Linked DNA regions of Homo sapiens: regions 2, 3 and 4 are each linked to region 1. The links come from fine-mapping of genetic effects on gene expression. A gene starts in region 1. Each other region holds a variant in brackets. All regions are shown on one strand. Distances are between the middles of the regions.

Evidence for each region. PIP is the estimated chance that this variant, and not a neighbour inherited with it, causes the effect.
Region 2: its variant is fine-mapped to the expression of LIRIL2R in whole blood (TOPMed, PIP above 0.99).
Region 3: its variant is fine-mapped to the expression of LIRIL2R in prefrontal cortex (GTEx, PIP above 0.99).
Region 4: its variant is fine-mapped to the expression of LIRIL2R in prefrontal cortex (GTEx, PIP above 0.99). The same link has a PIP of 0.9 or more in hypothalamus and putamen.

The regions. Positions count from the first base shown.
Region 1 is chr6:176,465-184,123 of GRCh38, reverse strand. LIRIL2R (lincRNA regulator of IL2RA) reads right to left here and starts at 3,729. Exons shown (of 2, transcript XR_926349.3): 1 at 1-3,729. It overlaps LINC03066 (long intergenic non-protein coding RNA 3066), which reads left to right. Exons shown (of 8, transcript NR_126020.1): 7 at 1,650-1,758; 8 at 2,429-2,658.
Region 2 is chr6:152,804-160,462 of GRCh38, reverse strand. No RefSeq gene overlaps it. Among named protein-coding and RNA genes, the nearest start is that of LIRIL2R, 24 kb to the left of the region's middle. RefSeq lists enhancers at 4,101-4,190, 4,231-4,320. The variant A/G (reference allele first, on the strand shown) is at 4,460.
Region 3 is chr6:222,117-229,775 of GRCh38, reverse strand. No RefSeq gene overlaps it. Among named protein-coding and RNA genes, the nearest start is that of LINC03066, 20 kb to the right of the region's middle. RefSeq lists enhancers at 1,827-1,886, 1,897-2,016, 2,027-2,156, 2,717-2,776, 4,072-4,121 and 1 more. The variant A/G (reference allele first, on the strand shown) is at 3,730.
Region 4 is chr6:144,331-151,989 of GRCh38, reverse strand. It overlaps the pseudogene SEPTIN14P6 and the pseudogene CICP18. Among named protein-coding and RNA genes, the nearest start is that of LIRIL2R, 32 kb to the left of the region's middle. The variant G/TG (reference allele first, on the strand shown) is at 3,482.

The DNA of each region.
Region 1 (7,659 bases):
AATCGGGCACAAAATTCCTAAGGAGACAGTAAGTTTGCCAAAGGGCACAGACACGTCCTAAATTCATAGCTTGCTAGAGTTAAGAGCATTAACAACAATAAAAATGCTCCTTGCCTGTAAATGGGATAATCATAGAATGACTAAATGAGGTCAAGTCACTCCAGGACCATGAAAACAGAAAAGAGCACTAGAAGAGGTTGAACTTCATGGGTGGGTGGCAGACAGTGCATGGGCTACACCGAGGTACTTTCCCCACTGGTACTGTCCCTAATTCACCTTGCCTGATGGCCTAGACTCAATGTTAGCAGCTGCCATGCTGGCCCACCTGGGGAAGGCCACAGAGGGTTCGTGAAGCAGCCTGCTGTGCTCTACTTAATCCTCCCATGACCTTTACCTGTTCCTCTTATCTTGCAGTTTTTGGAAGCATCTTTTTCTCTGGGGCTTTGTGATGGCCAATAAGGAGGCCTGAGTCTCCCCAGAAGTTGCCCAGCACCTACTTGCCCAGCCCGCACTCCAGCTGTGGGTCAACTGGGAAGGAACAAAAACAAGACAAGGGGCTCCCTTCTGCTCCCACTCCCAGAGAATGAATCCCCCAGCTGCCTGCCCGCTCCTCTTTAACTGAGTCTTCAGATGAGGTGAAGCGGTGGGGTCTTCAGATTATCCTGTCCTGGGAGCAGAAAGTTGAGTTGCAGAAGGAGGCCTCGTGTTTGAGGAGCTGGGGAACATTTCCTCCTTCATTGATAGGTTCCTCCTGTCTCAGGCCTGAAGCACATCTGAACGCAGAGGCAGGAGAACGGGCAAGGGAGAAATAGGTATGGCTCCGGGTGGGAGGAGGGCCCGGCATCAAAGGATCAAAGCCCCCACTTAGCATCACAGTTTGCCTGTGCACGTTTCTGTGAATTAGGCAAGCAAGAGATATATTATTACAGCATTCCCTAAACTCCATTTCAATCATACCCAATTTCAAAAGGTGACTAACAGGTGAGGTGGGATGGCAGAAAGATCCCCGAGTCACAAGCACCTGGAATCCCCAGGCTGGCGCTTTCTGAATCATTTAGTTGGATGAGATCTTAGAAAACCTTGCCTCACCCTTTCTGGAAGGCCATCATCACTTCCAGTGAAGCAAACCTGTTGCCTTCCAAAGCATCAACAGCTCTTATTGTTAGAAAATGCCACCTGAAATTTAGCTGAAACAGTCTAATGGAGTGCTCAATTCCAAATGAACTTCTCTACCTCATTAAGTAGAATAAGAAAATTGTAAGCCTCAGACATCTTGAATTTAGTCTTTGTCAAAATTACGGTGAGGCTTGATCCCTCAAACTTCAGTAGCAGGAGACTTAGAGGGCCCAGTTGCTGCTGACATTGTTAAGCACTGAACTGATATTAGCATTTGCTTAGAAAGACAAGAGAATACCCACATATCCAATACGTTTTAAGTAAAAATCTATACTTCTTTTGTATGTTGTCATTTAAAATAATGAATTTATCAGCTTAATTAGATAGAGCAAAAGTTTTTATGTAATTTGGAAAGTTTGGGTTAATTGTCCCACCTCGAGAACGTGGATGTTTATCACAGGAAATATTTGTCAGAGTGTTTGTTGTAGAAATCCGTGATGCTCACTTCAAGCTATAATCTGTGTTTGCCACAGAGGTTTGTTCTAATTCCCCAACCTTGCCACGACTGACCTGGGTCATCACCATGTGCTTATTGAAGAGCCTTGGAATACTGTATAGACCCGTACAGAGTTGTTCAAATAGGTAAGCACTTTCCTTCTGGTGAATTTTTTTTTTTTTTTTTTTTTGAGATGGAGTTTCACTCTTGTTGCCCAGGCTGGAGTGCAATGGTGAGATCTTGGCTCACTGCAACCTCCGCCTCCCAGGTTCAAGCGATTCTCTTGCCTCAGCCTCCGGAGTAGCTGGGATTACAGGCACCTGCCTCCACGCCCGGCTAATTTTGTATTTTTAGTAGAGATGGGGTTTTCTCCATGTTGGTCAGGCTGGTCTTGAACTCCCAACCTCAGGTGATCTGCCTGCCTCGGCCTCACAAAGTGCTGGGATTACAGGTGTGAGCCAACGCGCCAGGCCGAAAATATTTTATAATAAAGTGACTGTTGTAGATCAACTTTATAATACAATGCGGATTCTCAATTCTTATAACAAAGACTAATGTACATAAATTTCAGTATGTTTTAAAATTAGCCAGTACTTAGTAGAAAGCCCATATAGTTTACTGTAGCACTTCTGCACTTATAGTTTAGGTCTATCTAGATGTATGACTTCTCAGATGCTGCCGAATATTGACCTTTTGCATGGTATTCAGTCTTTGAATTTTTATTTCATAATATGCTGGAACCACGATATTCTATCTGATCAGCAACTGGTCTGGTATCTGGGGCTCATAATTTTCTTTTTCCGCTTCATATTTCAGACAATTGAGGACGACTATAATAGTTTCTCATTAGAAATACATGCTAATAAACATCATGTCTTTGGTATTAAGTGGCAATTAGATGAAACAACCTGAAATTCTGTCTGATACCAAGATTGAACTTTGCTGAGATTACTGTTTCACTCACCGAAAATATCAGAATACTCAAGGGAGTTATTTTTTTTCTTAATGTAACTTTCATAAAGGAAATGAAAGAAATGTGGAGACTGAAAACAGTTGTCTGGTGTCTCAATACTGCATGCAGGTTCAACTACATTCTAAGCAAGTTGACTGTTATAATACATTTCACATTTTCTGTGATTTTGTTTGTGCTGAGACCTTATGCAATTACAAAGCAGATTTTTTACACTAACCTACACTGAGAAAAGAAAACCACCGTTCCCCTTTTAAACAGGAGAGTGCCTCAAGTACACTCGGGATCCCTCTCACCAAGCACAGCAAGGCTTGTGACTTCAAGCACACCAAGCTTGTGACTTTTTCTCCTACAAGGTGCACCTCGTTTTTTCTTACTGACAAATTGGCTTTAAAGTAAAGTTAGTTCCCTATCACACTGGCCCCCAAGACTCCAACTCCTGCTTCTCTTGGGATCTCTGCCCAGAGTCCAATCTCCCCTAAGGCGTGGTGCAGTGCTGTGCCCACACCTAGGCTCTGGGGGTGGGCACCCTTTGACTTTCCTCATATCATTCCACCCTCGACACATCCAAATGTGAACACATCTTCTCCACAAAGTGCCCCTTCACCACGCCAGTTCCCAGACACTTTATTTCTTCCCTTGCCTAGAGTGCTGCCCCCAAAACCAGCCCCCCATCATTGGCCATGTCCTTGCAGAGGCTGAACCATCCCACAATCTGTCAAGGATATCAGGGAAGAGCATGAGCTGGATAGACTTCAGGCTCTGCCAGCAGCTACATTCTAGGGGTGCCCGGACGTCCTGGTCTCTTGAGATGAGATGGTCTTGTGTCTGGAATTGGTCTCACTGACTAAAAGAATAAAGCCGCAGACCTTCACAGTGAGTGTGACAGTTTTTAAAGATGGTGTGTCTGGAGCTAGTTCCTTCAGATGTTTGGACGTGTTCAGTTTCTTTCTGCTGGTGGGTTTGTGGTCTCGCTTGCTTCAGGAGTGGCTGCAGACCTTTGTAGTGAGTGTCACGAGCTCTTAAGGTGGTGCGCCTGGAGTTTCTCATTCCTCCCAGTGGGTTTGCCATCTCACTGCCTTTAAGGAGGGAAGCTGCAAAGCTTCGCGCAGTACGACAGTTTCCAAACATGATGCAAGCACAGCTTACCACGGTTGCCTCCGCAGCCCGCTTTTATTCCCTTATCTGACCCCACCCACATCCTGCTGATTGGCCCATTTTACAGAGAGCTGATTGGTCCGTTTTGACAGGGTGCTGATTGGTGCATTTAGGAATCTTGAGCTAGACACAGAGTGCTGATTGGTGCATTTACAATCCTTTAGCTAGACACAAAAGTTCTCCAAGTCCCCACTAGATTAGACACAGAGCACTGATTGGTGCGTTTACAAACCTTTAGCTAGACACAGAGTGCTGATTGGTGTTATAATCCTGTAGCTAGACATAAAAGTTCTCCAAGTCCCCACCAGACTCAGGAGCCCAGCTGGCTTTGCCTAGTGGATCCTGCGCTGGGGCCGTGGGCAGAGTTGCCCGCCAGTCCCACACTGCACACCCACACCACGCACCAGCACTCCTCAGCCCTTAAGCATCGATAGGACTGTGTGCTGTGGAGCAGGGGGCGGCACCCCTTGGGCAGGCTCAGGCTGCTCAGAAACCCACGGCGGCTGGGGGGAGGCTCAGGCATGGTGGGCTGCAGGTCCCGAGCCCTGCCCCGTGGGGAGGCAGCTAAGGCCCAGTGAGAAATTGAGCGCAGCACCGGTGGGCCGGCACTGCTCGGGGAGCCAGAGCACCCTCCACAGCTGCTGGCCCGGGTGCTAAGCCCCTCACTGTCTGGGGCTGGTGGGGCCGGCCAGCCAGCTCTGAGTGTGGGGCCCACCAAGCCCACGCCCACCCGCCAAGCCCACGCCCACCCGGAACTCTAGCTAGATCACAAGTGCCATGCGCAGCCCCAGTTCCTGCCCCTGCCTCTCCCTCCACACCTCCCCGCAAGCTGAGGGAGCCGGCTCCTGCCTCGGCCAGCCCAGAGAAGGGCTCCCACGGTGCAGCGCTGGGCTGACGGGCTGCTCAAGCACAGCCAGAATGGGCGCCGAGGCCGAGGAGGCACCGAGAGCGAGTGAGGGCTGCCAGCACTCTGTCACCTCTCACTACCGCACTCTGTCCTACCCTCCCATGCCCCTCCAGCACCCTGATCCTACCTGCACCCCGCTCCTACTGAGAGGTGAAGCCCGGCTGGGCTTCTGGGTTGGGTGGGGACTTGGAGAACTTTTCCCTCTAGCCAAATGTTTGTAAATGCACCAATCAGCAGACTGTAAAAACGCACCAATCAGCACTCTGTGTCTAGCTAAAGGTTTGTAAGTGCACCAATCAGCACTCTGTAAAAATGCACCAATCAGTGCTCTGTGTCTAGCTAAAGGTTTGTAAATGCACCAATCAGCACTCTGTAAAAACGCACCAATCAGCTCTCTGTAAAATGGACCAATCAGCAGGACATGGGCAGGGCCAAATAAGGGAAAAGCTGGCCATGCGAGCCAGCAGTGGCAACCTGCTTGGGTACCCCTCGATGCTGCAGAGGCTTTGTTCTTTCACTCTTCACAGTGAATCTTGCTGCTGCTCACTTTTTGGGTCCGCACCACCTTGAAGAACTGTAACACTCACTGCGAAGGTCTGCGGCTTCTATTCTGAAGTCAGCCAGACCATGAACCCACCAGGAGGAACAAACAACTCTGGACGCCCCACCTTGATAGAGCTGTTAACACTCACTGCGAAGGTCTGCAGCTTTACTCCTGTGAAGTCAGCAAGATCACGAACCCACCAGAAGGAAAAGACTCTGGACACATCTGAACATCTGACGGAACAAACTCCAGACACACCATCTTTAAGAACAGTAACACTAACCGCGAGGGTCTGCGGCTTCATTCTTGAAGTCTGCGAGACCAAGAACCCACCAAAAAGAACCAATTCCGGACACACTACCTGCTTTCGACCTCACAGCACCTAGCTCCTACCTGGACCTTTCTCCTACCTGTGCTTGTCCCAGCAGCACCCGGCTGCTATCCGCCCTGCAGCACCCTATCCTACCCATGCTTGCCCCACTAGAACCCCAATCTTACCCACACTCTGCTCCTTTCAGTGCCCTGCCCTGCCAGCACCCCATCCTACACATGCCTGGCCCAGCAGTCACCCTACTCCACCTGAGCCCCGCCCCTACTCGCACCCCGCTCCTATCCATGGCTCACCACTGCAGCACCAGCCACTACCCAAACCTCGCTCCTACCCACGCCCAGCCCTGCCAGCACCCCATGCTACCCACGGCCCACTCCAACAGCACCTCAATATTACGCATACCCTGATCCTACCCACACCTCACTTCTACCCGTGCCCTGCCCCACCAGCACCCCACTCCTAGTGTGTCCGGAATTGGTTCCTTTTGGTGCGTTCTTGGTCTCGCTGACTTCAAGAATGAAGCTATTGACCCTTGCGGTGAGTGTTACAGTTCTTAAAGATGGTGTGTCCAGAGTTTATTCCTTCAGATGTTCAGATGTGTCCAGAGTCTCTTCCTTCCAGTGGGTTTATGGTCTTGCTGACTTCAGGAGTGAAGCCGCAGACCTTCGCAGTGAGTGTTACAGCTCTTAAAGGTGGAGTGTCTGGAGTTGTTTGTTCCTCCTGGTGGTTTCGTGGTCTCGCTGACTTCAGGAATGAAGCCACAGACCCTCGCAGTGACAGCTCTTAAAGGTGGTGCGCGTCTGGAGTTTTTGTTCCTCCTGGTGGGTTTAATTTAATTTTTAAAATTGCTCTTATATGGCTGGGTGATGTGGCTCACGCCTGCAATCCCAGCACTTGGGGAGGCTGAGACGGGTGGATCACTTGAGGCCAGGAGTTCGAGACCAGCCTGGCCAACATGGTGAAACCTTGTCTCTACTAAAAATACAAAAATTAGCCGGGCGTGGTGGTGGGTGCCTGTAATCCCAGCTACTTGGGAGGCTGAGGCAGGAGAATCACTTGAGCCTGGGAGGCGAAAGTTGTGGTGGGCCGAGCTGCAACCACTGCACTCCATTATAGGTGACAGAGTGAGACTCTTTTTCAAAACAAAAAAAAAAGGACAAAAAATTGTAGTTCTAGAATAAATAGGTGAGTTAAAAAGGTGTTATCTGTGTTACTTAAAAACGAGGCTTCCTTTTTTTTTTTTTTTTTTTTTGAGACGAAGTCTTGCTCTGTCGCCCAGGCTGGAGTGCAGTGGCCCGATCTTGGCTCACTGCAACCTCTGCCTCCCAGGTTCCAGTGATTCTCCTGCCTCAGCCTCCTGAGTAGATGGGACTACAGGTGCACGCCATCATGCCTGGCTAATTTTTGTATTTTTAGTAGAGATGGGGTTTCACCATATTGGCCAGGCTGGTCTCGAACTCCCGACCTTGTGATCTGCCTGCCTTGGCTACCCAAAGTGCTGAGATTACAGGTGTGAGCCACTGTGCCCGGCCGACTTCCTTATATTTTAACCCACTAAACAATGAGGAGGAATTGTTCTCATTAAGTACAAGGGCACTGGATCCTCAGGACCCTGACTTCATAAGAGAAACAGCAGCATATCCTGAAAGTTTCTGACACTTCCTGCTCACAGGCACCAAAGCTATATGTGTAAACTTATCCACTTCTTGCCAAAGGAACCCTCCCCTGGGAAGATGAAGCTTCTTGGACGTGACCACCTCCAGGAACCAACGGGCGGGCAACCTTTATGCATGTGTGACCAGACCTCCAACTATAAGCATGGTGTGCAGTACAGAAGAGCCTGCTATGAAACTGAAATTGATGGGACATTTTATAGGAATTGATAGAGATGTTGGTCCTCAAAAGCTTTAAATCTGTGATCTGCAAAATAAAATGTGTTGGAAACCTCTGAACAAAATTTTTTTCTACTATATTTGGAATATTTTTCTTCCATTGTTAAGTACACATGTGTATACAAAATGTCCAGGAAAATGCCATATAATAATGAATAGTGAGATATACACATTTATTTATTTGAGACGAAGTTACACATTTATTTAGTTATTTATTTGAGATGAAGTTTCACCCTTGTTGCCTC
Region 2 (7,659 bases), 24 kb after region 1:
TTGTTCTCTTTGTAGCAACCGTGAATGGGAGTTCACTCATGATTTGGCTCTCTGCTTGTCTGTTATTGGTGTATAGGAATGCTTGTGATTTTTGCACCTTGAGTTTCTATCCTGAGACTTTGCTGATGTTGCTTATTAGCTTAAGGAGATTTTAGACGGAGACGATGGGGTTTTCTTTTCTTTTTTTTTTTTTTTTTGAGACGGAGTCTCACTCTGTCACCCAGGCTGGAGTGCAGTGGCGCGATCTCGGCTCACTGCAAGCTCTGCCTCCTGGGTTCATGCCATTCTCCTGCCTCAGTCTCCGGAGTAGCTGGCACCACAGGCTCCCGCCACCGCGACCAGCTAATTTTTTGTATTTTTAGTAGAGATGGGGTTTCACCGTGTTAGCCAAGATGGTCTCCAACTCCTGACCTTGTGATCCACCCGCCTCGGCCTCCCAAAGTGCTGGGATTACAGGCATGAGCCACCGTGCCCAGCTGAGACAATGAGGTTTTCTAAATATACAATCATGTCCTCTGCAAGCAGAGACAATTTGACTTCCTCTTTCCATATTCGAATTCAATTTATTTCTTTCTCTTGCCTCATTGCCCTGGCCAGAACTTCCAATACTATGTTGAATAGGAGTGGTAAGAGAGGGCATCCTTGTCTTGTGCTGGTTTTCAAAGGGAATGCTTCCAGTTTTTGCCCATTCAGTATGATATTGGCTATGAGTTTGTCATAAATAGCTCTTGTTATTTTGAGATACATTCCATCAATACCTAGTTTATTGAGAGGTTTCAGCATGAAGGGCTGTTGAATTTTGTCGAAGGCCTTTTCTGCATCTATTGAGAAAATCATGTGGTTTTTGTCTTTGGTTCTGTTTATGTGATGGATTACATTTATTGATTTGCATATGTTGAACCAGCCTTGCATCCCAGGGATGAAGCTGACTTGATCATGGTGGATAAGCTTTCTGATGTGCTGCTGGACTCAGTTTGCCAGTATTTTGTTGAGGATTTTTGCATCGATGTTCATCAGAGATATTGGCCTGAAATTTTATTTCTTTGTTGTGTCTCTGCCAGGTTTTGGTATCAGGATGATGCTGGCCTCATAAAATGAGTTAGGGAGGATTCCCTCTTTTTCTATTTTTTGGAATAGTTTCAGAAGGAGTGGTACCAGCTCCTCTTTGTACCTCTGGTAGAATTTGGCTGTGAATCCATCTGGTCCTGGACTTTTTTTGGTTGGTAGGCTATTAATTGTAGCCTCAATTTCACAACTTGTTATTGGTTTATTCAGGGATTTGACTTCCTCCTGGTTTAGACTTGGGAGGGTGTATGTGTCCAGTAATTTATCTGTTTCTTCTAGATTTTCTAGTTTATTTGCATACATGTGTTTATAGTATTCTCTGATGATAGTTTGTATTTCTGTGGGATCAGTGGTGATATCGCCTATATCCTTTTTTATTGCATCTATTTGATTCTTCTCTCTTTTCTTCTTTATTAGTCTGGCTATCAGTCTATTTTGTTGATCTTTTCAAAAAACCAGCTCCTGCATTCATTGATTTTTTTTTGAAGGGTTTTTTGTGTCTCTATCACCTTCAGTTCTGCTCTGATCTTGCCACCAGCCCACCTCGCATCATCGTTTACATGGAAATGTTGGGACTGAGGTGACCTCATGCCTCTCAGTTCCCAGCCAGCTTTCTCTCCCTCTGGCTCTTAGCCAGCCTGTTAAACAGAAAATAATCAGACAAATAAAAAACACCCTAGTGTTCTAGCAAGTTACACATAATTGCTTGCTTACCAATTGTCTACCTCAGAACTTTCTTTTCCTCATAGGGTCAATATAATCATCTATTTTAAATTTGGCTTTTGCCATTTTACAGTCCAAGATGCAGGACTTTGCATAGGGCACAGATGGATTTCCATAGTCAGCATGAGGATGGGAGGAGGACAGGGCAGATCCAGACCCACTCAGTGAGAGCTCTGGCTGGAGTTACTTGGCTGGACCTCACTCCCGAGAGAGGAGACCTTCCTCTGGACCAGCTACCAAGACAGCTCCTAGTTGGAAAATGTTTTCTTCTAAGGTGAGATGCAGCCCCCACTGGACAGGAAAACACCAGACAGTTTTAAAAAGGAAAAACCAAGGTAAGCCGTGGAGCTTCTTGACGGGGGACACAGCAGAGTCCACCCAGCTGGGGTGAATCTCCACGGTTCCCCAGTGGGACGGCGTGCAGGAGTCCCAAGTCACTGACCCCTGCAGCGTGGGAGCAGCATGAGCCATCTGCAGTGACATTGTCTCCTCCGGCAGCAGCCTCCATCCAGAAATCCATCTCAGGGTCTGTCCTCACAGGAACCTGATGCCAGAGCTGTGCACTGAAAGGATTTGGACACAGGTATTTTGTGGAACTGAGCATTTTCCAGGTCTTGCTGGAGGTCATTCTGTGTGAACTTGATGGAGATCTTTCTCATGCGCTGTTTTCCTAAGTGTGGGAGAGCATGGCCTGCATGACTGCTGGCTTCCAGCACGTGGCGTGCAAACCCATGCCAGAGTGTGTAATTCACTGTAGCCCTTGACAGAATAGCAGGGGATAAAGCTTGTTTTTTAATCTTCTGTTTATTACCCTCAGCCAATTAACTTCTATCTATAGTAGAAGATATTTTGCCAAATTTTTTTTTTCAAAATGGAGAAATACCTTGCTCTTAAGGCTTTTAGAAGCACAGACTTCTCAATTTCATTACATTAAAATCACTAAAAGATAGAAAAAAGTGAAATTCACATATCAAAAGAAATTCTCTTTTGTCATAATACTCTATTTTCATTTGAAATGTTTGTGAATTTTCCATGCATGTGTCCAGATGCATAGGGAGTTTATTCAGTCAATTAAGTTAAAACATTAGATAACATGGTAAATTCAAAAAGTAGTGAAGACACATTTTGTTTCTGTCTCTTTAACTGAGAAAACTGGTTGATGCCTCCTGTGTGCGAGCACCGTGTAGCTGATGCAGATACAGAAACCGAGGTTTTCTTACTTGCTGCCACTGGCCCTGGCACTGGAGGTTGGCTCTGGGAGGGCAGGGTATCTGTTTTTATTACCACTCAGCAAGTGCCACACAAATATACACGGGTGTCTCTGCCCTCTAGTGGATCCTGGCAGGCACTGGGAGCAAATGTGACTAAAAAAAGTGAAAGATTTAAAAAATACCCATTATCTCCAGAGGGGATTTAATTCTAACAGGGGACTTTTTTTTTTTTCTTTTTCAAATGGGCTGATGGGTAAAAATAATGCAAGACTGGAGATGTTGGAAAAAAGCACACTGCATTTGCCTTTCAGCATCTGTGATGACTGAGTCCTTCCTCAGCGCTGCCACAGGGAGCACATTCACATGTGTGTCACACACATACCAGGGTTAGGTCAGAAGACCAAGTGTTACCTGGAGGAAGCCACAAAGGCTATGAGACCAAGCCTTCACCTGGAAGACACTTGATAGTTCAGAAGCCGAGATCCTGCGAGGTGTCTCAGAGAGCTCAGCTGTGACCCTGCACTGTATGGAAGGGCAGGCAGTGGGGCCCAGGCAGGTGAAGAGGATTGTCCACTGTTGAGCATCATCAGCCTAAAACCCACATGCAATGCTATTGCTGCAAAACCGCTGACTGTTGAAGCCACAAACCACAGAAACAGACTACCTTTATGGTCCTCACTGTGCAACTGGTGACTTTTCAGAAGATGAAGATTAAACATATTAATCATAAATTCAAAGCATCAGAAGAAATACTAGGAGGTTTTCTAACCTCTGCTACCATGACTTTTCTTTTTGGCAAGATTTGTGAATTATTGTAAATAAGCTCACAGAGGCCAAAGTGCTCCCCTGAGTCATCCAGAAAGAGGCAGGCTGCTAATCCCCACATCTGAGACATCTGTGTTTTCTTAGGATAATAAAAAATTAAAGATAAGGGAAAGAGAGAAGGACAGAAAGAGACAGAGAGACAGAGAGACAGAGAATTGGAGCTAAGAGGAAACATTTTCAGGTTTTGCCCCCCAGAATTCCCAGTGAACAGTCCCATTGCCAGCGGGTGAAATCCCATGCCCTGGCTCCAGGATCCTGCTCTTTCGTTTGGTGACTCCTGTGCAGATTTGGCACTGAAACAATATGGAACTTGTTACACTTCTCTGGACAAGTCATTTTGCTTTCGGCTCACAGGCTCCACTTCCCTGGACACCCCTTCACCCTAAGCTTCAAGTAATTCAGCTTCACCCTTCAGAGAAGAGCTCAGGTGTCACTTCCTCTAAGGACCTCCCCAGCTGCCTCTCCAGCAGAAGGGCCCCCACCTTGCCCTTTGCACATCTGTCCCTCAAGGTGCTGCTGTCCTCTGTGGAGGGTGGGATCCCGGGAACTAGAGCCCCTCTCCTGCTGGAGACACTCGGCACTCAGAAAGTGTGTGCTGAGCGGATACAAGTGTGGCAAGCTTGCACAGTCTTACA[A/G]TGTGTAATCTCATGTCTGAAATAGATCCCCATTTTCATTCTTGGTAAAATGAGTAAGTGGGGCTGGGTGACCCATACTCTCTTTTCAACTCAGAAGTCCACATTGAGCCTGACATCAAATAGCTTCCCAGCCAGTGCCAGGCCAGGACCTAGTTTGTTCAATGTGCCTGTGTCCCCTACAGAGTTGGAAAAGCATGGAGAAATGGGACCAGCTCTGCTGCCTGCTGCCCAGTGCCAACCAGCAACTCCAGGCTCACAAACCCAAGGCAAAGGCACCTGCAGGAGATCTTGGTTATTCATTAGCTGTGATTGGGCTGGGAGGGGAGTGTGTTCACTTCTAATTTTCCAGGGACTAGCATGAGACAGTAAAGTTTGAAATGTGGAGTTTTTTTGTCTTGGCCAAAAAAAAAAAAAAAAAAAAAAAAGACCTTTTTACCTTCTCATCCTTGGAGCCACTGGCATTAGCTATGGGCCTGATAGTTTAAGAAAACTTGAAAGTGAACTATGTGAACCAGTATTCTCCAAAGTAATATTTTGATAAATAGTGTAATTCTTTATTACAGCAAAGCCATTGCTTAAGTGGGCAAAACTCTAGAGGATAGGAAAACACACTCTTGAAAAAAGGTGGTGATGCCCTGAAATTCAGCAAACTGCAGGGACACGTGTTGTTCTACCCCAGGTCAGAATGTGTCAGTCATCACTCGATGCCACTCACAGACCACCAACTTCAGAATATCTAGGTGTAAATTTCTGTACAAAAGTCTTAACATAACAATGTAAATAATTTCACATTATGATTAATAAATTAGTATTTGTATTACACTATTACATAATATAAAAGCTATTAAAACATATTTGTCCTCAAAGAATGGCCTTGGTTTCTTTGGGCAGTGTCTCCTCATGGAAAGGTAGTGCATTCCTGCTAAGTCATGGACAAAACTGGCCTCCAGGAGCTGCAAGCTGCAGCAGCAGCTTCTCATCTACGTCCGTCACTACATGATACTGTTGTTGACTTTGAAAGCTTCTTTCAGTCTAGTTTTATCAACAGAGCTAGTATTTCATGAGGATCTACTACATACCAGGTTCCAGAAAGCTAAATGCCTTTTGCTTGTTATTACTCACTAAATACAAACCACAACTCTCTTCTCATTACTCACACAACAAAATTTAGCTGAGGGAGATTGAGTGACTTTCCCAGGGTCGCACAGTTACTAAGAGCAGAGCCGTGTTTAGATTCATGTGGGAATACTGAACGCTGAAATGAACGAGCAGAAATATCCTACGTTCCAAAAGCCTACTCAAGCCATTTGTTCTTAAGGAAAATCTTTATGCTAATTTTAAGCTCCAAATACTTATGAATGGCAGAGATCTACAGATTTCATTCTGATGTAAGAGATGATGCTCACCAGCTGGTTACTGCTACCACCCCACAACCCCGAGCATACTGGACAAATCTCTAAGCCTCGTTGTTAGTGCAGACAATGCTGGTGGAGTCTGAAGTTGTCATGCAGTGACTCACTCAAGCTTAGGCAGATTTGATGATATATGACACAGAGATGCAAAGAAATGCTGTAGCTGACACACAGAGGCTGGCTCTGGGAGATGCAGAAGGAGCATGTCACCCAAAATAAAGCCAGACAGACATCCTTAAGGAAGGAGCAAAGGGGCTGCATCTTAAAGAATGAAGAAGAGATTTGTCATGAGAGATGGGACAGGAAGTTCTTGAGAGGCAGAGGGAGAGCATGAGAATGTCGGGAAGGGAGGAGAGATTCTTGCACATCTGGGAAGCTGACAATCCATCGGCATTGTCAGAAGGAAAATAAGGAGGAGGAGTGGAAATAATAAAAGCAGGGCTGTGTGTTGATTGTGGTAAAGAGTTGTGATTCTATCCAGAAGGCAATAGGTAGCATTCTAAAGAGAGATCTTCTAAAACAAGAGTCAGCAAATATTTTCTGCAAAGGGCTAAATGTTAAATATTTCAAGTTTTCCAAGCCATGTTGTCCCTCTCTCAATGACTCAGCTCTTCCATTATACCATGAAAGTAGCCAGAGACATTGTATAACACATGTATGTGGCTGTGTCCCATTACAACTTTACTTACAAACGCAGACTGTGTCAGACCTGGCCCATGCATGGTAGTTTGCCACACCCTGTTTTAGAAAGCTCAGGTTTATGATGTGATGGAGAATGCCTACAAGAGCTCTTGTTTTAAATGGTAGAGTGAACATACACTGGAATTCTATCCTGCTTGACCCAAGCTCTTGATAGCGAAAGGTAGAAAAGATAGATGGTAAATAGATAGATAGATGATAGATAAAGAAAATACATAGCTGTTCCAGAAAACAGAAATGGATAACTTCATGAACCAAAAGCAGAGTAATATACTTTAGAAAGGGAGCAGGCTGGAAAACTCACAGTTGCAAAGCAAATAGAATTTCCAACTGCCTCTTGTAGCCCCTTCCTGGAAGTAGTCACAACCCAGGGTGTTTCGACTTCTTCCCCTGTTTTTTGTTTGTTTGCTGTTTGCTTTTTTGTGGGTTTTTGTTGTTGTTGTTTGCTTTTTTAAAAAAAATTCCCTTTCCCTGCTTTTTTGTCACAGCAGTCTTTGTCACTTCAAACACCACAAGTTTTCTTTTTCAAAAAATTATATCAACCTTTCAATTAAAATGCAACATGTCTGAAACTTGATATCTAGAGAGGTGATATGGACAAAGGAGCCCTTGTTACTGCACGTTTCTGTTCTCCAGACTTCACCTTGCACACAAGAACAGACAATGCACAAAACCACTTCCTTATGGACTGAAATTCTGAAATCCTTTTATGACTGGCGTTTCCTAACCCTTCAACTTCCCCTCTCCCATGCTGTGAATGATTGTATTGGACATTTTTGTTTTAATCTCAGTGACAGGGGAACACAGGTAGCTCTAATATAGCTGTGACCCAGATGCTTCTGTTTCTACCATGTATTTATTTTGTAGCAAACATTTACATCCATCGTTTTTCACTGTCTTTTGAAAATAATTAGGGAATATCTCATCTGAGGTAGGATGTTTCTAGTGGTTGTGTTCTGAAGGAGGAAAAACTAATCTGTTCTCTTTCCACTGCATTCCAGGAACAGTGAGAGGACCTTGTGCATGAATAATTTGTTTCCACACTACAGAGTGGGTAATAAGCAGATTAGTAAAAACAATTCTGCTTCA
Region 3 (7,659 bases), 46 kb before region 1:
ATTTCCTTCTAAATCTGCACGAAGCACAAAGACTGACGTGTCAGCTTGAGGCTCCAAGGGGACAGAGTTTGAAGTGAATGAAGTTTGTCTGAAGTTCCTTCTAAATCTACACGAAGCACAAGGACTGACATGTCAGCTCGAGGCTCCAAGGGGACAGAGTTTGAAGTGAATGAAGTTTGTCTGAAGTTCCTTCTAAATGTGCACGAAGCACAAGGACTGACGTGTCAGCTCGAGGCTCCAGGGTTTGCTGCTTGGGAAGGTGGGTCCTGCTGGGCTGTGGGAAGTCCACAGGTTTCAGTTCACATGATTCGAAGCACACATTACTATAAGGGTCAGCTCTTATAGGATACCAGTTCGGGGAGTTTCAATTTGACTTAGGAGAGGGTCTAAATCTGAAGAACAAAGCCAAATAACACACACCCAGGTGAGTTTCATTGTCAAAACCATTGAAACTGGCTGAGACCCACACACCCCCACCCACTGCCTGGCTGAGCCCGGCTCCACTTTTAGACATTGCGGGGAGGGGTGCAATCCCGCCACTTAGTCCTGCCCTCCCGCCAGCCCAGGCATAGTGGAAGGAAGGCGGTCAATCTGGGCTTTCTAGAACGATGCTGAGACTCCCTGACTCTGCCGAGCACTTGTGTAATGACTGCACGCGTTGAGGACTGAGAGAAGTTACTCCTTTGACAAAATTGCATTTCCAGGAGTACATTATTTAACTTTGTTCTGGCCCCTGTCAATCTCCAAAGAAAGTACTTCTCTTCATTCTAGAAAGATGAGGAACATTTTTCCCAAGAGCAAATGAAGGCTTAGACAAAGCATGTGGTATAAGTCACTTCTGGGTGGAAAATGGATTGCCTTTGTTTTATATTGACCTATCAAATGATAAAAAAAAAACACACACACACACACACCAAAAAACCAATGTTTTTTTTTTTTTAATATAAAATTTGCTTGCTTCAAAAAGATTGAAAACTGCCAGTCGCGGTGGCTCACGCTTGTAATCCCAGCACTTTGGGAGGCCGAGGAGAGTGGATCACCTGAGGTCAGGAGTTGGAGACCAGCCTGACCAATGTAGTGAAACCCCATCTCTACTCAAAATGCAAAAATTAGCCAGGCGTGGTGGTGGGCGCCTGTAGTCCCAGCTACTCAGGAGGCTGAGACAGGAGAATTGCTTGAACCCAGGAGGCGGAGGTTGCAGTGAGCCAAGATTGTGCCACTGCACTCCAGAGCAAGACCCTGTCTCAAAAAAACAAAAAGTTTTGAAAACTACTAAGCTACTACAGCATATAATGAAGTCATGATAAATGAACATGAATCTGACATAGGGTTTAGTTGTAAAGTACATTCCATCTTAAAAAGTACCTACACGCTAGGACCTGGTGTTCCTGCCTGATTTAAATCTTTCTTTCTTGTTTCCTTTGCTCCTCATTCCCACCATTGCCTGTTTCTTCCTTCCCTCCCTCCCTCCTCGTGCTCTGATGCCTCTCTGTTGTTTTAGAACACATTCTACAACCTCGCAGTGTCAAAGGCTCACCAGCCATTCCCACCACCATCCTGCGGGGCAGCCTGATTATGTTCAGGGAACAATACAGTCGCTCTGAGGAATGGCCCAAACAGAGGCACCCACACACTCCCCTTGCCAGGGGAGAATGCCAGGAGAGACCCTGTCATCCAGTAGGATGTCTGCTGGGGCTGCCCAGAAATATTTCCCCCCCATAAGGGAGAGAGGTGCAAGAGCAGAAAGTCCTTCTCTTGCGAACCTGGAACCCCGTTGTGAAAACACATGGTGCTTTCCCAGGCAGCTGCCGCCTATGTCCATGTTAAACAGTGACTGCTCGGTAGACAGCCCAACTCTCTAGGGATGACAGAACAGAAATAACCTGGTTCTCAGTGGCCTGAGTGGCCGAAATACCTTGGGACCAGCTATCTCTGGACTTAAGTAAACTAGAAATGTCCTTGTGCTTTAAGCCAGGTTTTTGTTACTTGTAAGCAAAATATCACTTTAATCGAATGGAGAAAAGGACTGTATTGAGAAGAAAAGTTACAATTATGTCATGATAATTATGATTACAGAAGCCTGTCGAATGCTGTTTACACCAAAGATCGAATGACAGCCATGCTCCAGGGAGCTGGTGAGAATTTCCCTGAGGAGGACAGCGAGCACCGGCCTTGCAGAAAAAGCCCCACGTTAGGCAACGAGGGATGAGGCCAGTGGATGGCAGGCTTCGCATGAAATGCTAAGGAGCTGTGGTTTTTGTCTCTAGAGAACAGAGGCATGTGCCTGTGTGAGCAAGACCGCTCACACTCACGACACCCACACTCCTCCTGTGTGATGAGGACTCATGCTGGCCTTTGTCTCCATCTTCTGGGAGAGGCTCTCTAAAGCCTTACAATTTCCCAAGTGATGGGAGTGTCTCTGCTATTCATGGTGGGCCCTGATAATTTATGCTAACAGGTCACTCACGGTGGGGGCCTGCGTGGTTTCAGGACGGGTGACGGTCTTACAGGAAAGACCCACGTGTCACCAGAGGATCAGGGCTCTGAGCCTGACCTCTAGGGAAGGGAGGTGGCTGGAGATGAAGTTCAACCATCAGGCCAGTGATTCAATCAATCACGAGTATGTCATGAAACCCAAGTGGAAGCTCTGGCCCCAAAGCTTGGTGGAGCTTCCAGGTGGTGAACGCATGGATGTAGTGGGAGGGTGACCGGTCTTGAGCACATGGAAGCTCTGCCTTCCAGGCCCTCCTGGACTGTGTCCTGCTGTCTCTTCCTTTGGCTGGTCCTGAGCTGTGTCCTTTGTAATAACACTGTCATCATACATGTAGCACTTTCCGGAGTTCTGAGAGTCATTCTGGTGAATTATTGACTCTGAAGGGGTCAGGGGAACCCCTGACTTGGTCAGAAGTGCAGGTGGCCTGGGGACCCTGGAGTTTGCAGCTGGCATCTGAAGTGAGAGCATTCTTGCTGGGGATGGTGCCCTTCACCTAAAACTTTTGGCCCCAACTCAGGGCCTCAGTGTCAGAAGTCCCTGCCCTCACCTTCCATGAAAAGTCTGCATGGCCCAGGCCAGAGCTTCGGAGGCCCTGGGTCTCCAGACCCAGGAAATGGAGGGGCTTCGCTTCACCCCCAGTCCACAGACTAACTACTCTGTGAAGAATGCTAACCTTTGGTCACAAGGGAGCTGAGGATTGGGGGTGATGAGATCTGAGAAAATGGGGAGAGCTAAATCATCCTGAGTGCGGCGGCTCATTGATACTGTTGTGGTGCCTTACACAGCCAGACTGCAAATGTTCTGGCCTAAATCCACTCTTTCAGAGTAAATAGTAACACAGGCAAATAGAATCATAGCTACCATCGACTGAACTATAATGGGAAAGATGCCAAGTGAGATTTATTTTTGTTTTGCTTTTTACCTAGTGTTCCTAATGTCCTTTTCTACCAGTGACGCGCAGCTTGGTAAAGGCCTGAGTCTGGCATCTCGCTGTGAAGCGGCCCCAGGTGTCCCCAGCTCTGTCTGTTGGCTCTGCCCCACAAGCTCGCGCCCGAAGCCACAGAGACACAGGGTGGGTGGGGGTGGAAAAGTGACGCCCAGGAATCGCTGGGGCTTTGCAATGTGGATGGTAGGAGGGTGGGTTGCGCCATGTGCTCCCCCCGCCTCCCTCACCAGGTTGGTCTGTTGCGAGGCACTTTCCCCAGTTGGCTCTGTCCAGGCCCCAGGCCGCCAGC[A/G]TGGTGGGGAGCCCCTCTCTCGGCCTTGCCGTGGCTGCAGTGTGGACACACGTGCGTATTCAATCACTCTCTGCTGCCCCTAGACTCTGATAAGAAGCTGGGCGTTCAGGGTGAAGGCGTGGAATGATGAGCAGCACACAGACGGCATTTTGCTGAGCATCAGCAGGCGCTCCTCCGTCGGTTGCTTTTGCATAATAAATGTGGGGAAGATTTTTCAACCCCGTTTTCCTATGAGAAAGCTGAGCTCAAAGGCTGAGCTGCTTTGCTGAGGTCACTCAGAAACTCAGAAACTCACAAAGCAGGGGTGAGACCTCTGCTCGACAGCAAAGGCAGGCAGCGTCCCTCATCCCTGCACCACGAGGGCGTCACAGCCCCTTCCCGGGTGGCCACAGCCACAGGGCACCCTGCGCCCTCTCCGGGCCTCGCCTTCCTCTTCTGAAACAGGACGGTGATCTCATCCCCCTCACAGGCTGATGCAGAGACCTAAGGAGCACACTGGCTGTACACGGAGGAAAGCACCTCGGTTTCCTGAAGCAGTGTGGCATTCGAGTCTGATTTCCAGCAACTCCACTGCCCCCGCAGCCAGACTTTGCATGAGCAGAGTTCGCAAACCTTCTAGAATCTGGCGAGGAACAGAGGAAATCAGCTAAAGGGCGTAACAGGAAGTGGGGCCTGGACCGGGAACCTGGTTCCTCCGCTCTTTCCCTATAGGTACAGAAGGAACAGGCCCAGGAATGAGTAAGAATGTTTTTCTCTACAAATAACTCACACCCAAGCCTCAAGCAGGGTTAGGGAGTGAGGCATTGTGTCATCACCTACCACAGGAAGCCCAGAGCCAGGGCAGACTCCAGACACGGCACGCAGGGTTGTGACTCTACACACCTGGCGCCTGGGGCACTGGTGTCTTCCAGGCAGCTCTGCCAGGTGTCACATCTGGACAAGACAGAGAGGTACTATCTTCCCCTTAGGAGTGATGAACTCCTTTCCAGAAGCTTCCTGCAGGCTTCTCCTCATGCCTCACGTCTAGAATAGAGTGATCTGCATGTTCCAAGAACAGTCACTGGTTGGAGAGTTGGTATCACCGTGACTGGGTGAGCCTGATGGCTCTAAACTCTGGCTGTACATCAGAAGCACACACTGAGCTTCTGAAAAGGAGAGGCCTGGGCCCCACTTCCAGAGATTCAGTTCAATGGATCTCCTGTAGTACCTGAGCATCAGAACTTCGTAGCCCCCGAAGGTGCATGCTACGGCCAGAAAGAAACTCAGGGAAAAATGGATGTTGCAGAGACGTCGCCACAAATGAAACCCACAGCGACAGGAGAAAGCGGCTCGCGTCCCGTTGAAGAAGATGCTTCCCTGGATTACTGTGCAGAGTTGAAGCTTTACCTTTCACCTGGAGAACGCGTGGTTCTGTGACCAAAACAGTGGCAGCTCCTCCACCAGCCCCTGCTGCTCCCATCCCTTCCAGGGAAGAAACTTTTGTTTCTGTGATGCCAGCGCAGGCATTCAGAGCAAAGCCACTTCCAGGAAATTCTAAGAATGAGGTGCGGGCACCACTGGGCTGGCGCATGAGAGTCATGTGCCTCAGACTCCACGCCCCCTGCTGACCGTGCCCACAGGCTCCCAGGTTATCTGTGGCGGAGGTCAGGGTCTGCTGGGCAGGGTCAGGGATGTCTGGTTGGGCTGAAGCAGATGCAGGGGTCCTGCGGTCACCACTGCCTCCGATGAAGCTCTGAATGGTCTTCTCTGTTCTTCCATACGGTCATGTGCCACACAACAACATTTCCAACCACAGACAGCGTATACTATGGTTGTCCTGTAAGAGTATAAGGGAGCTGAAAAATTCCTATCATGTGATGACATTGTAGCCACCTCAACGTCTTAGCACAATTATATATATATACACACACACATATATATACTTTATATGTAGAGAGAGAGAGTGTGGCCTACGTGTGCAGTGTTTATAAAGTCTGCAGTAGTCATAGTGATGTCCTAGGTCTTCACATTCACTCCCGACTCACCCACTGACTCACAAGAGCAGCTGCCAGTCCTGCAAGCTCCACTCATGGTAAGTGCCTTGCACAGGTACTGTTGTTCATCTTTCGTATTGTTCTTTCACGGCACCTTTTCTCTGTTTAGATACACACACGCCACTGTGTCATAATTGCCGACAGCACTCAGCGCAGTGACATGCAGGTCTCAGCCTGGCACGACAGGCTGTCTCATATCGCCAGGTGTAAAGCAGCTCATAGCACGCGGGTGTGTGGAAGTTCACTCTGCGATGCTCACACAACAGCAAATTGCCTGAGGACCCATTTCTCAGAAGGTATCCTTGTCCTTAAGCAACACATGACTGACATTTGTAAAAGGGGCAAGAGACAGCTTGTGCTTCTCAGAAAAGGTGCCCATTTTCAACTGGTTTAGGAAATTTAGAAAGAGGGAGGAGGAGTATTAAAGTGGCTAAGAGTGTTTCTTTCCAGTTGGTTGATTCTGCACCTCACACACCTAAGGAGTCTGGGAAACATCCTGGGTAGCAGTGGTGGAGAGTGGTCGTAATTTACATTGAAATGGGGATCACCACTGCATATACAGATGGCCTTGCTAGGTGCTGAGGAAGCTCTGATGCCCCCGCGAGGATCAAACATGAGTCGTGGAGACAGGACATGGTGACATGTAGGAGAACACAGTTGAATGCCAGGTAAGCCCCACGTGGGCCTCATGGGTTCAGAGGCTTTTTTCAGAATTACTTCCAGTAGAACGGTTGCCCGTCACAGGGAGCATATCCAAGAGGGCGTGTGTGTGAAGCTGGAAAAGTGGCTTGTACTGGGAATGGGGTGTCTCATATCTCTATAGAGAGACCGCAGGGAGCTGAGGACTGAAGGAGAGGTTAGAGCAGCTCAGGCTCAAGCCCTCTTCCCCAGAATCACCAGGAACTTGCCAGGGAGGCTTTTGTTGCTGTTGTTGCAAAATCCAATTGCAATTACAACAATAAGTGAGGAATTAAACTACAAGTATGAATAGCATGGGCAGCTTAATTCTTAATAAGAAAGCCTAAGGTGCTTTCAACTAAACCACTTTCTGAAGTTTTTTTTTTACCAAAAATAAATTATATCCCAAAATTTATAAGAAAAGGTACAAGATAAAAAAGTGCCCCCTTTTAGAGCTAAAGTTGTCAAGCTGCAGATATTTGATTGATTTGTCCGTGAGAGGGTGGGAGGGAAGAAGCCTCCTTATGTGAAGCCGTCTCAGAATTTCTACTCCCAGACCCACATGCGGATGTGGAAAGCCAAACATGTGATTTCAGGCAAATACATTAAAGAGTAAGAGATAGAAAAGTATGTAATTGGATGTATCATTATGATATTTTCCACTGTCAGCAAAAGGAAAAAGATATTGATTGTTCACACGCGCAAAGAGAATCTCACAAACACACTCTTCCTGCAGCCAATGTCCATTTAATCATTGTGATAATGCAGCTACCTAGATTTTTACTCTCCACAGATCCATTAGGTTTAAAAGCTCTTAAAACTTTGATTCTCTACTGAAAAATGGAATGCTTTCTTTCTGGCCATTATAAAATATACTTTGCAGTAGTTTGTGCTGATTCCAACCGTCCATCTTTACAGTTGTTAAATCAGGTTTAGACTAAGCTGCCTCCTTACATATTTTAAGTTTAGCCTGAAGGTTTTTCGGTATATCATGAACTATAACAAGCGGAGGTGTAAATGAACTGTATACTGCTCTTGCGCCAATCACTCAGTTTGGGCCAATAAAACGCAGCCAACTGTTTGAATCATGTTCAAATAACGCAAACGATGTTCAAATACCACAAACGCCGAGCTGTACCCCATCCAGCTGTTTCTGCACCTCACTTCCATTTTCTATACGTCACTTTCCTTTTTCTATCCATAAATCTTCCTCCATGTG
Region 4 (7,659 bases), 32 kb after region 1:
GAGTAGGAGCGTCTCCCCTTGCGTTAAACAATGTTGTAGAACATCGTATTTAGTAAGCTCCTAGCAGATGAGCCACGTGGCTGCTGTGCACACACGCCTGCTTGCTGCTGTGAGCTCAGACACCATCATTAGTCTTTTGCATCTCTGGAGGGAATTATAAGGACCACTTAATAACCTGTGAATCATAGAGAGTTAAAGGTGTTTCCCCAAAACACTGATGACAGAATGAAAGGTGAGGAGTGTTAGCCACAGGTCAAAAGTGCAAGAAAGTCTCTCAATGTGGGTTGTTGAAGAAATGCAGGTCTTTTTTCTTTTGGAAGTCTCCCTAGAATGGGGTCAAGGACTCTGCCCATTCTAGGATGAAAAACTGGGATATTAGACACCCTCAGTTATTTATTCCAAGCCTTCATTTTGGGCTCTTAATTAGTTTATTCAACCATCACAATCTCAAATGCTAGCAAAGCTGAGAACTCAGTTTTGAAATTTACTCTTGGGTCCCCTCAGCCAAGAGTGGGTCTGTTCAGTCAGTTGGGAGCTTAGGATTTCATTTTCATTTATCATTGCTAATGGGAAAGAGTACGCTGTCTTCATGGCAGCTGAATTTGCAAGAAACTCCTTGGATGGGGTTAATGGCAGCTGTATTTTTCTGGGAGCTCTGCTTTAACTGGATAAAGTAAGTTCTGCTAAGATTTCTTCCTTTATCTTCAGTATCTCAAATGCTTTCATTTAAATAATCTTTATAACAACTTTTGATGTCTGAGTGGATTCCCACACAGTCATCTATTGTAAGACTTTCTGATTCCTTTTTTTTCCTTTGTTCATTATGAATAAGGCTTCTGTAAATAATTGCATGGTAGCTTTTGTTTGGAAATAGCATCAAAGTAGTTGTCAAAATACTTAGGAATGTGATTTTTGGATTGTAAGGTGAAACTTGTTTAGCTTTGGAAAAAAGTGCCCAACTTGTAATAGGGGAGGAAAAATAATTTTCTATGTTTTTGGAATTCTGAGATGGGACCCTCTGTAAAAACTGACAGATTAAAATGAGAAAAACAGAAAAGTTTAAAAACATGTATACCTTATGGATACATGGGAGATACTCAGGGCAAAATGAGTAAATCTCCAACAGGTGGCTTTCAATTCAAGCATAAATACTATGTTGAACTTAAAGAAAGAAGATTTGAGGTGCAGTAGTGGGGAGTTAGCCAGCAAAAGCACAGTAGACAAGGGTAAGGTTTGTTATACAGACTTAAGTCCATGCAGTCTCCATTGATAAGACTCTTTAGTGATTTAGTTATCCTTCTCTTCTTGGTGTTGAGAGAGGTAGCTTTTGAATGGGGATTTCCTTTATAGATGTAAATTTCCCTTACACAAGGGTAACTTCTACTCTGTTTTCAGAACTTCCTTTGTTAGCATTTTTTTTTTTCAAAATAATCAGCTTGGAATAATTCTTAAGCAAAAGGGACATATTTTGGGGTGGCATATTCTGGTTTCCTACCATTATATTTTGGGGTGGCATATTTTGGTCTTATACACTGTGTTCCACCGGCAATGAAAAGAGTTCTTGTTTTTCCTCCAGCAATTTGTCATTTTTTAAAGAGTTTAGCAGTTCTAAGAGATGCAGACCAGCTGTGCTATCTCATTGTGGTTTTCAGTTCTCTAGCATGTTGAGCATGTTTTTGTATGTTTACCTGCCATCTGTAGATCTTCCTTGGTAAGATGTCTGTTGAGATCTGTGTGCCTTTTTAATTGGGCTGTTTAACTTATTGTTTAGTTTTAAGAATTTTTAAATATATTTTGAATACAAATTCTCAGATCTGTATTTTGCAAATATTTTCTTCAATATGTGGCTTGTCTTTTTGTTATCTTAACAAGGTCTTCTCCAGAGTATAAACTTTAAATATTAAGAAATCCACATTGTCATTTCTTCTGTGTATATCAACCTTTTGTGTCATTTGTTAAAATTCATTACCAAACCCAAAGGCACATAGCTTTTCTTCTATAGATTCTTCTAGAAATGGTATAGTTTTGCATTTTTAGTGTAAGGATGATTTTGAGTGATTATTTGTGTAAGTTGTAAAGTTTTCATCTACATGCATATCATTTCCTATGGTTTCCAATTAATCCTTCCATCACTATTTTTGGGAAACACACAGGATAGTGGGCTCTGTTAGAGGAGATAGATAGCTAGACATGAACAGGAGGGGGAGCTCCTGGAAAAGGGAAAGTCTGAGAAGGCTCACCTGGAGGGACCACCAAAAATGCACATATTAGTAGCATCTCTAGTGCTGGAGTGGATGGGCACTTGTCAGTTGTGGGTAGGAGTGCGAAGAGGTACCTATGCAGAAAGAAAAACCCTAGAACTCTCTTTAAGATGCCCCAACCATCATTCACTCTGCAATAAAAATGTCAGAATATTGGTAGCTACATGCTGATAAGAAGGACAAAGGGGACATTCTTAAGAGAAACCTGGCACCCTAAGTGCAGATTAGGGCAAAGAAGGACATTCAAAAGAGATAGGCAGGCACACTGGGTACAAACGTGACCGCTGTCAGCCTGCCTGGGATGGCGGGAAGGAGGCTGGTGCCAGAGTGGATTCGGATTGATCACCACACATGTACCTCAACCAACAGTGAGGAGGTCCCACAAGCCTAAGTGTGGCAAGTCGGGGACCTAAGGCAGTAGCAGGAAAACCAGACAAAGAGAACAGGTGGAGACTTGAGACAGAGGCAGGAATGTGAAGAAGTCCAAAATAAAATTCCCTGCACAGGACTCCTAGGATGTTTTCATGCACGATCAGCCCACTCCTCCCTATTTTTCTACAATGAGCTCTTTACACTGTATTTCTTTTCAATGAAGTTGTCTCCCATTTTTGTACTGCCTCTTGGTGAAAATCTTTCTTCCAAGTTAGACAAGAACTGGGACATCAGCTCTCCCTAGTACTAGCTCCGTTTCAGTTGAATTTACAGAACTGATGGGGCTTAAAAACTGATGCTCTGACTTTAAGTGGTGCAGGAGGCAGCCAGTAGGGGACGCCAACCGTCACACTGGGAGCAAGAGAGCCCTGCCTAGTCCCCATCTGCCTGCAGGTGGCGTGCTGCCTCGACACTGCCACCAAGAGGGCCAGGCAGTGTCTCCAGCTGCCAGCAGGTGGCGTACGACGACTACACTGTGAGCAACAGGGCCCTGCAGTGTCCTTAGCTGCCAGCAGGTGTCATACGGGCACCACACCATGAGCAAGAGGACCCCGCAGTGCCCTGGTTGCCAACAGGGGGCGTGCTGCCACTACACTGTGAGCGAGAGGTTCCTGTAGTGCCCCCAGGGGCCAGAAGAGGGCGTGCCCCCACTGCACTGCAAGCAAGAGGGCCCGGCAGTGTCCCCAGCTGCCAGCAGGGGGGTGTGCTGCCACCACACTGTGAGCAAGAGGACCCTGCAATGTCCCTAGCTGCCACCAGGCGGCGTGCAGCCGCTATACTGTGAGCAA[G/TG]AGGGCCCTGCATTGCCCCGGCGCCAGCAGGGGGCGCTGGCCACCACTATAAGCAACAGAGCCCTGCAGCTGCCCTAGTCGCCAGCAGGGGGCGCACTGGCACAGCACCGTGACCAAGCGGGTCCTGTAGTGCCCAGCTGCAAGCAGGGGGCGGTCGAGCCCGGCTTTTCGAATTACTGAGGTTCCACCCGTCTCCGCGCCTGCACCGCGCCCCACCCCCAGCACAGGGGCGTGCGACTGTGCTCCTGCACCACGCCACCCCAACCCCCGCCCGGCGGCGTGCTCTCTGCGCATCCACCGCGCCTCCCGCGCGCACGTCGCGTCAGTCTGTGCGTGCCCGCGCCGGCGCGGGGTGCCTTTGCGGGGGCAGAGCTGCGTTCTGCTTAACACAGACCCGGGGGACACCAAAAACGCGGAGCAGCTTTCTCAGCACACACCTTGGGGGCACGGCCTCGCTTTGGGACAACTCAGGGCAGCATCGACGGTGAACAAAATCCTTTCTGTTTGCAGCCCTGAATAATCAGGGTTAGGGTTAGGGTTAGGGGTTAGGGTAGGGTTAGGGTTAGGATTAGGGGTTAGGGTTAGGGTTAGGGTTAGGGTTTAGGGTTAGGGTTAGGGTTAGGGTTAGGGTTAGGGTTATTGGTTAGGGTTAGGGTTAGGGGTTAGGGTTAGGAGTTAGGGTTAGGGGTTAGGGTTAGGGTTCAGGTTCGGGGTTCGGGTTGGGGTTGGGTTTGGGGTTAGGGTTAGGGTTAGGTTTTGGGGTTAGGGTTAGGGTTTGGAGTTAGGGGTTAGGGTTAGGGGTTACCGTTAGGGTTAGTGTAGGGGTTAGGGGTTAGGCTTAGTGGTTAGGGTTAGGGTTAGGCTTAGGGTTAGATTACAATTTCTAACCTGTTTTATTTTGTTTTTTTTCTGAGACAGGGTCTCCCTCTTTTGTCCAAGGCTGGAGTGTGGTAGTGCTATCACAGCTGACTGCAGCCTCAACCTTCCAGGCTGAAGCGATCCTCCCATCTCAATCTCCTACGTGGCTGAGACTACAGGTGCTTGCCACTATGCCCAACTAACATTTGGAATTTTCGTATACGTGGATTCTAGAGGGGTGACAGCGAAACGTGAGTAAGCATGGATTTTGGTATATGCAGAGATGGGGGGCTGGAACTAATTCTGTATACTGAGGGATGACGACTGTATATGTTTTTACAATTACGCTGTAGGATACATACTGTTGCATAGCCTTGAAAATAATAATTTTTAATTGAGTGGAATAATAATAATATTGATAAAAGTAGCAGCTGGCCAGGTGTGGTGGCTCACACTGGTAATCGCAACACTTTGGGAGGCTGAGGCAGGAGGATGGCTTGAGGCCAAGAGTTTGCGATAGGCCTTGGAAACAAAGGGAGTCACCATCCCTATAGAAAAATACATGAATTAGCCTAGTGTGGTGGCATGTTCCTGTAGTCCCAGCTACTTGGGAGGCTGAGGTGGGAGGATCACTTGAGCCCAGGGAGGCTGAGACTGCAGTGAGTCATGATCAGGCCTCTGCACTCCAGCCTGGGTGACAGAGTGAGACCCTGTCTCTAAACAACAAAAAAGTAGCAGCTAACATCAACTGACCTTTTACCGGGTGCCTATGGATACCATAGTTTAATTTCTTATAACTGTTTCTTATTTTACTTACCAACTCTGTCTTCAGTTACTCCCAGATTTTTACTGTGTGTGTACAGATGACCTTTTGGAGGAGCCTCAACAGGCACAGCTCCTCCCTCATAGTGGCCCATTTAGGCCCAACTCATGACTGTCGGGCTATTTCCAGGCCTAGTGTCTGCCTCGTGGCTGACTGTTGAAGCCCAAAACTTCCTCAAATCAGCCTTTTGCCCAACTTCTGTCTACTGTCGGACTCTACAGGCCAGCCTCTGCCTCACAGTGGACCCTCCAGACCCAGATGGTGTCTCACTGTGGCATCCTCAGGCGAAGCTCCTGCCTTTTGGCAGCCTCTCCGGGCCCAGCTCCTCCTGCCTCCCAGTGGCCTCTTTCGGCCCAGCCCAGCTCATGGCTCTCGGCGGCCTTCCCAGGCCCCGCTTTTGACTTTTGGCAGCCTCTTCAGGCGCAGAACTTGATCTCCAGTCGGCCTTTGCAGGCCCGGCCTCCTGCCTCTCGAAGGCCTGCACGGGCCTGGCCTCGGCCTTGGCCTCACAGCGGACTCTCCACGCCCAGCTAGCTCTCGCCTCACTGAGGCCTCCCCAGTCCAAAGCTCCTGCCTTTCGGCCACTTCGGCAGGTCCAGCTCCTGCCTGCCAGTGGCCTCTTTAGGCCCAGCTCATTCCTCACGTCGGCCATTCCAGGCCCCGTTTTTCCCTTCCGGCAGCCTCTTGGCCTCTAATTTGTTTATCTTTTGTGTATAAATCCCAAAATATTGAATTTTGGAATATTTCCACCATTATATATTTTGGTAGGTAATTTATTTGGAGTGAGTTTCTGCCCATGCCCGAATTTTTTATTTTATTTTCCTTATTATTTGGTGTTAAACAGGTTTAATGACGGTCATGGCAACTTTTTGGCACAATGAAAAATATCGCCCATGATCAACGTGTTCTGTTCTGGGGAAGGGGGCAAAGGCAGGGTGAATCACTTTCTTAAAAAGTATAGCTCAAGTTGGGAGTGCAGAGGGAATGGGGAGAAAACCCTCCCGCTGCCTGTGTCGAAGTGCAGGAGCCCCCACCCCCATACTCACCTGAGTCCAGCCCCTCTGGGGAAAGAAGGGGTGCATGAACTCCCCCTAGTCCACAGGCGCCTCCCTGTGGCCCAAGGCCCTCTTCACACTCCATCTTGTAGCCCCAGCAGGAGCTATTTTCCGAAAAGTGAAAAGCTCTGAAGGTCCCACAATTCATGGTATGTACAGGGGCTCGGAGGAGGGAAATTGCCCAGCTTTCCCCCGGCACAGCTGCAGGGTTAGGGGGTATAGATAAGAGGAGCAGGCCTTGGCCAGGCGTGGTGGCTCACGCCTGTAATCCCAGCACTTTGGGAGGGGGAGGCAGGCAGATCACGACGTCAGGAGATCGAAATCAGCCTGGCCAAGATGATGAAGCCCCGTCTGTACTAAAAATACAAAAATTAGCCGGACGTGGTAGCGTCTACCTGTAATCCTAGCTACCCGGAAGGCTGAGGCAGGAGAATGGCGTGAACCCGGCGGGAAGAGGTTGCAGTGAGCCAAGATCGCACCACTGCACTCCAGCCTGGGCGACAGAGCAAGACTCGGTCTCAAAAAAAAAAAAAAAAAAAAAAAGAGGAAGGCCTTACTCCGTCCCAAACTGAAAGGATTAAATGGCTTCACCTGGGAGAAGATAACCATCCTGCCCTCCATTGCTACCCCCACATACTGTCCATGTTCTCAGGGGGTACTGTGAGTCCTGGGATCTTTGGGGTTGCCCACCTGCCTGTGGTAGTTATGGAGACCCCCAGGTGTTGAGGCAGGGCTGGGGTGTCCCCTTCCAACCAGGCTGTCAAGGCCCCAACTCTGGGGCAGAGGCAGTGGCAGGGCAGCCAGGTTTGTGCCAGAGCCTGAGCAGGTTGAGGTGGGGTCAGGCAGGGCTGGGAGTCAGGGCAGGGGCAGCAGCAGTGGACCCGCTATGCACACATCTTCTTCTCCAAGGTTTGTGTGCAGAACATCCTGCCCATGCTGACCCAGCAGCTTCAGTTGGCACCTGCCCCAGTCCAGCCTCTGGGAACCATGCAGCAGCTCCCAGCGGCCCTGCACCCACCACCAGCATCCGTTTCACCTGCAGTTGAAGATCCGTGAGGTGCCCAGAAGATCATGCAGTCATCAGTCCCACGGAGCAGCCCGCGAGGCTGAGGCTCCTCCCACTGGACCGCCCCCCAACTGGCACCACTGCTGCCCCTGCCCCTACTCTCAGCCTCACGTGACTCTCGGGCAGAGGCAGTGGTGGGGCAGCCAGGGCAGCGTCAAGAGTCTGAGCCAGGTGAGGTGCGGTCAGGACCCCCACAGGGCTGGGAGTCAGGGCAGGGGCAGAACAAACCTTGGAGGGGAAGATGTGTGCATAGTGGGCCTGGAGGGCGGCTGTGGCCTAGTGGACAGGAAGAAGCAGTGGGCCTGGAAGAGCTGCATGATCAGGGCCGGCACTGGTCCAGGGCACGTGCAGTGAAGAGGACAGCTCCTTCTCGGTC